Homo sapiens: one gene and its partner. The protein of the gene in region 2 binds, or shares a complex with, the protein of the main gene of each other region. Each region holds a gene or a part of one and is shown on either strand. Other genes may lie near its edges.

Evidence for each region. The genes of interacting proteins can lie anywhere in the genome.
Region 1: ZNF541 (region 2) and HDAC2 share a complex: the UniProt entries of both Homo sapiens proteins name them as parts of the histone deacetylase complex.

What each region holds. Positions count from the first base shown.
Region 1 is NC_000006.12:113,961,149-113,964,648, forward strand, and holds part of HDAC2 (histone deacetylase 2), read right to left. Parts: intron 1,247-3,500; exon of another isoform or gene 1,219-1,246; intron 1-1,218. UniProt on the Homo sapiens protein: Histone deacetylase that catalyzes the deacetylation of lysine residues on the N-terminal part of the core histones (H2A, H2B, H3 and H4).
Region 2 is NC_000019.10:47,524,649-47,528,148, forward strand, and holds part of ZNF541 (zinc finger protein 541), read right to left. Parts: intron 1-3,500. UniProt on the Homo sapiens protein: Transcription regulator which is essential for male fertility and for the completion of meiotic prophase in spermatocytes.

The DNA.
Region 1 (3,500 bases), on a different chromosome or scaffold from region 2:
GTCTATCATTTCAACACGGGTTTATATATTACAATAAAAGCTAGAATAAAAAATGCAATTTATCCACTAAATCTTTCAAAGTCCTCCCTAAATACACCTTTTGTTTGTTTAATGGAAACAACCCCAAAAACTTTTTTGTCCTCTCTCCTACATATTTGATAACAGTACGGGATAAACAATCAGCTTTTACAAAATCCATGCTTCTAATAACATAAATACTTGATTTTGTTGGTATCACACCTCTAATTTTAGTTAACTTCATTTTCAGCACAGCTCTCTTCTGAAAACAATTCATATACAAAGTCTTTTAAAGGGAAAGCCACCTTTTTAATGCAGGTGCCAACAAGGCTAAGAAACAATATAGAGTTTAGCAAAGCAGGGCCATGGCCCTTTGCAACATTCCTCTGCAATTATAATTAAGAGGCTATGATTGCAGAAAATAAACTACCTATTAAGAAAGAATCTACCATAAAGCTCTACCTTACATGGTGACAATACAAGGGATATATAGTTCCTTGAAAGCAGCCTGGTCTCATCATTTCTTAGATATGGAAAACCCACTAGTGTTATTACAAAGCATCATGTAATTAAATTAATACAAGGGAAGGCATTTCTTAGTTATCACTACTAAAGAAATCATTAAAGTAAAAATAATGAAAGTCTAGTCTTCACTAGAAATGCAGATTCTATGAGGTTTCGTGGGATGACCCTGCCCATAATAATTTCCAATATCACCTAAAACAGAAAAGACACAAACTAAACAATAACTTCCATCTATCTGCCTCTGTGTAACAATTACCCAAATGAAATGTCTCTAACATCTACCACATCATAACATCAAATACTCTAGTTATTTGATGCACACTGAAAATCCAGTGAAAAGCCCCAGGCCCCAATAATTGGAGACTACAGTAGCAATTTCTGAGCAAGTGTGTTTGAAAAAAAAAAAAAGCAGTAATTAACACTTGTTGAGTGCTTACTAGAAGGCACTATTAAGTACTTCACATATCTTTTAATCTTGTCAATAACCTTATGATGTGGGTATTATTACATTATTCCTATTGTATAATAGTAAAGAAGGATGAGAAACAGACAAGTCAGGTATTATTGCCTAAGTCACATAGCCAGCAAGTGGAGGAGCTAGATTCAAACTCTGGCAGGGCAGCTCACAGCTAATGTTCTTAAGTAATAACAACAGGGAATGTCAAGGACACTTACAGATTCACTAGAAATGGCAGGGTGAAGGCTGAAAAAAAGACATAATATGAAATATAAATATTTTAAATAAAGGCTTAGGGTCTTGGTTAATTTAAAGAAAATGAACACAAGAAACTGTACCTAATATATCAGAGTAATTTACTTTTTACTAATAGGGTCCTCAAATCGTATACGAATACGCATAGCTTTCAACAAGTTTCTCTGTTGAAATTTAGGGACCCCAGTCCCACAAAGAATACACAAAGAACCTAAATGATACATGTATACAGGGCAGCCAAGCTACAGATAATTTTTTGGTTTACCAAGAATTCTTCTAGCTGGGCGTGGAGGCTCACACCCGTAATCCCAGTACTTCGGGAGGCCGAGGCGGGCAGATCACGAAGTCAAGAGATCGAGACCTTCCTGACAAACATTGTGAAACCCCGTCTCTACTAAAAATACAAAAAAAAAAGCCAGGTGTGGTGGCATGCGCCTGTAGTCCCAGCTGCTCAGGAGGCTGAGGCAGGAGAATCACTTGAACCCAGGAGGCGGAGGTTGCAGTGAGCCGAGATCGTGCCACTGCACTCCAGCCTGGGTGACAGAGCGAGACTCTGTATCAAAAAAAAAAAAAAAAAAGAATTCTTCTAAAATATAAAGGCGTTATAAAATAACCATCTCCAACTTTTTCCCACTAATTCTGTATCTCACAATTCTCTAGATGGCTACTTTGTAGGCATCCACTTTGTTTTCTTTTTGAGATGGAGTTTCGCTCTTGTCACCCAGGCTGGAGTGCGGTGATGTGATCTTGGCTCACTGCAACCTCCACCTCTGGGGTTCAAGCAATTCTCCTGCCTCAGCCTCCCAAGTAGCTGGGATTACAAGCGCCCACCACCATACCCGGCTAATTTTTGTATTTTTAGTAGTGACGGGGTATCTCCATATTTGCCAGGCTTGTCTCAAACTCCTGACCTCAGATGATCTGCCCGCCTCAGCCTCCCAAAGTGCTGGGATTACAGATGTGAGCCACTGTGCCCAGCCCACTTTTTCATAAAGTATAAAAAGGCTAAGAAGTTTTAAGACCCTACAATTTTTATTCATCATTTAAATGGTCAGTAATGTATTAATAATTTGGGCATTTTAAATGTTACTGATTTGCATCAAAATACAGATTATCCCTAATCCAAAAATTTGATATCCAAAATGTTCCAAAATCTGAACTGTTTTGAGCACCAACTTAATAGTCAAGGAAATGCTAACTGGAGCATGTCAAATTTTTGATTTTCGAATTAGGGATGCTAACTGGTAAATAATTACAAATATTGCAAAACCTCCCCAAATCTGAAATACTTCTGGTCCCAAGAATTCAGATAAAGGATATTCAACCTGTACATAAAAATACTTTACCAATGAAATAAACATTCAGAAAAATCAGCTCAAGGTGGTTCCTTGAACACAACAAACTTTAATTGTCAATGCAAAGAAATTACTGTAAAGAATTATTTATCTGCAAAATTTTACAAATTGCTCACTCTTCAAGAAACTAACAGAATGGAAGTGTCTACTAAGGTCCACAATCTCTTATCCATATTCCTTCAAATTAGATATGTTTCAAATTTTACACTTTTTCAGATTTTGTAGAGATAATATGGTACACCTGCCATATATTATGTAATAGCCTAGAGTTTGGGTGGCATGATATAATCAAACATTAATATTTCTACAGCAAAAAAGTGTGAATATTCACGGTATTCACAGAGGAATAAAGATCATAAATAGCCTCACATTGATTCAGGTTAAGATTTTGATTCCAAATGAGTTACCAAAATTTTTTTCAATTTTCAGGTCATTTTGGATTTCAGAACTGTGAAATGTACCTTTAGCCACAAAGATAAGTTGACTGCAAAAAGAGACTCAGGAAAAAAAAAACAAGAGAAAAGAAAAAAGTTTATTATTTTCATCTTCCAGACTACTTAGCCCACTATCCATTTTTTATACATATTAACACATCTTTAATACATATTTCAAGGAGGTTATTCCTCCTTGAGACATTCGGAGCCTTGGCTTCCATAATACCATTTTCTTGGGATTTTACTTGTACCCCAAGGCCACTCCTCCACCAACCTTTAAACATCAAGGGTTTTCAGTTCAGCCATTCATTTAATAAATCAAGAGCCTACCATGTGCCAAGCAGGTACTGTTCTAAGGGTTTGGGTTCATCAGTGAACAATAGTTCTGCCCTAAATTCTCTTCTCTCGGGAGTTAAGTCCTGGGACCAGTCGTCTGTCTATGCTGTATCTTTTTCA
Region 2 (3,500 bases):
AGTGAGCTGAGATCGTACCACTGCACTCCAGACTGGGTGACATAGCGAGACTCTGTCTAAAAAAAAAAAAAAAAAAAGAGTTATACCAGAGCTAGGTGTGATTGCACACACCTGTAGTCCCAGCTACTCAAAGTTGGAGGATCACTTGAGCCCAGGAGGTCAAAGGGTGCAGTGAACTATGATCACACCCCTGTACTCCAGCTTGGGCGACAGAGTGAGATCCTAGATCTTAAAAGAAATAAGAACCAGTAAAACCTTCAAAACACTGCTAAGAGAAATTAAAGATGATGCATAGAGACACAGCCCCTGTTCATGAGTCAGAAACTGAATGTTGTTAGAATGTCAACTCTCCTTGGCTGGGTGCGGTGGCTCACGCCTGTAATCCCAGCACTTTGGGAGGCTGAGGCAGGTAGATCACCTGAGGTCAGGAGTTCAAGATCAGCCTGGCCAACATGGTGAAACCCTGTCTCTACTAAAAATACAAAAATTAGCCAGGTGTGGTTGTGCGCACCTGTAATCCCAGCTACTCGGGAGGCTGAGGTACGAGAATCGCTTGAACCCGGGAGGTGGACGTTGCAGTGAGTGAAGAGCGCGCCACTGCACTCCAGCCTGGGCAACGAGAGTGAAACTCTGTCTCCAAAAAAAAAAAAAAGTCAACTCTCCTCAATTGGCCTATAGAGCCAATGCAGTACCAATCAAAATCCTAGCAGGTTTTTTGTTTTGTTTTGTTTTGTTTTTTTTGGTAAAAATGGATAAGCTACTTAGAAAGTTCATATGGTAATACATGATCTTAAGACTTAGAAAGCTACAGTAGTAAAAACAGTATGGTATTACATTTTTTTGTCTTTTCAACAAAAGGTACAAATGAATATCCACATGCAAAAAATGAACTTTAACTCATACTTTACACCATATACAAAAATTAACACAAACTGAATTGTAAACCTAATTGTAAAACCTAAAACTATAAAACTTCTAGAGAAGGCCGGGCAAGGTGGCTCACGCCTGTAATCCCAGCACTTTGGGAGGCCGAGGCGGGCAGATCACGAGGTCAGGAGATAGAGACCATCCTGGTTAACACGGTGAAACCCCGTCTCTACTAAAAATACAAAAAATTAGGCGGGCATGGTGGTGGCATGTGCCTGTAGTCGCAGCTACTCGGGAGGCTGAGGCAGGAGAATGGCATGAACCTGGAAGGCGTAGCTTGCAGTGAGCCAAGATCTCGCCACTGCACTCCAGTCTGGGCGACAGAGCGAGACTCCGTCTCACAAAAAAAAAAAAAAAAAAAAAAAACTTCTAGAGAAAACAAGGGGAAAATCTTTGTGGTTGGGTTAGGCAAAGAATTCTTAGATACAACACCAAAAGCACAGTCCATAAAAGAAAAATTAATAAATGACTTCATCAAAATGACAAAATTTTTCTTTAAAAGACATTGTTAAGAGATTAAAAAGCTACAGATTGGGAGAAAACATTCACAAAGCATGGATCTGGATAAATGACGTGTCCTGAATCAATAAAGAACTGCTGTAACTCAATAATAAAAACACAGCCGGCTGGGCGCGGTGGCTCACGCCTGTAATCCCAGCACTTTGGGAGGCCAAGGTGGGCAGATCACCTGAGGTTGGGAGTTCGAGACCAGCCTGGTCAACATAGCAAAACCCCGTCCCTACTAAAAATACAAAAATTAGCCAGGCGTGGTAGCAGGCGCCTGTAATCCCAGCTACTCAGGAAGCTAAGGCAGGAGCATCGCTTGAACCTGGGAGGCAGAGGTTGCAGTGAGCATGGATTGCGCCACTGCATTCCAGCCTGGGCAACAGAGTGAGACTCCATCTCAAAAAAAAAAAAAAAAAAAGAAAACACAGACATCTCAATAAAAACATATGCAAGAGATATGAACAGACACCTCACCAAATAAGGCATACAGACAGCAAACAGGCCCATGAAAAGATGCTCAGCATCGTCAGTTGTGAAGGAAACACAATGCGATGCCACCACACTGTCATGAGAATGGCTGGAATTAAAAGGACTGGCCCTACCCAGGGCTAGCGAGTTTGTGGAGCAACTAGAAATCTCTTTTCCTGCCGGTAGGAATGTGAAATGATACAACTACTTTGGAAAATTGTTTGGCGGTTTCTTAAAAAGTTAAGCATACACCTACTAAGTCATTCCATTCCTGGTATTTACTCCTCTAGAAAACAAAGTACATGTCCATACCAAGACTGGTACCTGAATGTTCATAACGAATTTATTTATAGTCATCCCAAACTGGAAACCACTCAAATGTCCACCAACAGGCAAATGATTCTTTAAACCGTGGTACATCCACCCAGTGGAATACTATTCAGCAGTGAAAAGGGGAGACCTATCAATACCTGGAACATGGATGAACTCAAAATCATGATGCTGAGTGTGAGAAAGCTGGACCAAGTAGAGTCCATACTGTGTGACTACTCCATTTATAGCAAACTCTAGGAAATGAAAACGAATTTACAGTGCCCTGGCAGATCAGTGCTGACTGAGGACAGGGGGTGCAATGGGGAGTGATTACTATGTGGCAGGAGGAGATTCAGGGCTGAGGGACATGCTCATTATCTTGACTGTGGTGATGGTTTCCCAGGTATAGTATCAATATGTCAAAACTTAGCAAATCTTATTATACTGCAATTATGTGCAATTTTGTATACATCCAATTTTTTTTTTAGAACAGAAAATAAGCAGCAGGACATTATATGCAGTGAGATCTCATCCTTTGGCTTTTTTCGGGGTGGTGAGAGTCTCATCTTGTCACCCAGGCTGGAGTGCAGTGGTGCAATCTTGGCTCATTGCAGCCTTCACCTCCTATGCTCAAGCAATCCTCCCACCTCAGCCTCCCGAGTAGCTGGGACCACAAGCACGCGGCACCATGCTAGGCTAGTTTTTAACTTTTTTGTAGAGACAAGGTCTCACTATATTGCCCAGGCTGGTCTTGAACTCCTAGCCTCAAGCAATCCTCCCACCTTGGCCTCCCAAAGTGCTAGGATTACAGGCGTGAGCCACTGCGCCTGACCTCATCCTTTTTTTCTTTTTTTGAGACGGAGTTTCACTCTTGTTGTCCAGGCTGGAGTGCAGTGGCGAGATCTTGGCTCACCGCAACCTCCGCTTCCCGGGTTCAAGCGATTCTCCTGTCTCAGCCTCCCGAGTAGCTGGGATTACAGGCATGTGCCACCATGCCCAGCTAATTTTGTATTTTTAGTAGAGACAGGGTTTCTCCATGTTGGTCAGGCTGGTCTCGAACTCCCAACCTCAGGTGATCCACATGCCTCGGCCTCCCAAAGTGCTGGGATTACAGGCATAAACCACCACGCCAGGCCCTTTTTTTTTTTTTTTTTTTGAGACAGAGTCCTGGGCCGGGCGCCGTGGCTCACGCCTGTAATCCCAGCACTTTGGGAGGCTGAGGCAGGTGGATCACCTGAGGTCGGGGGTTCGAGACTAGCCTGACCAACATGGAGAAACCCCATCTC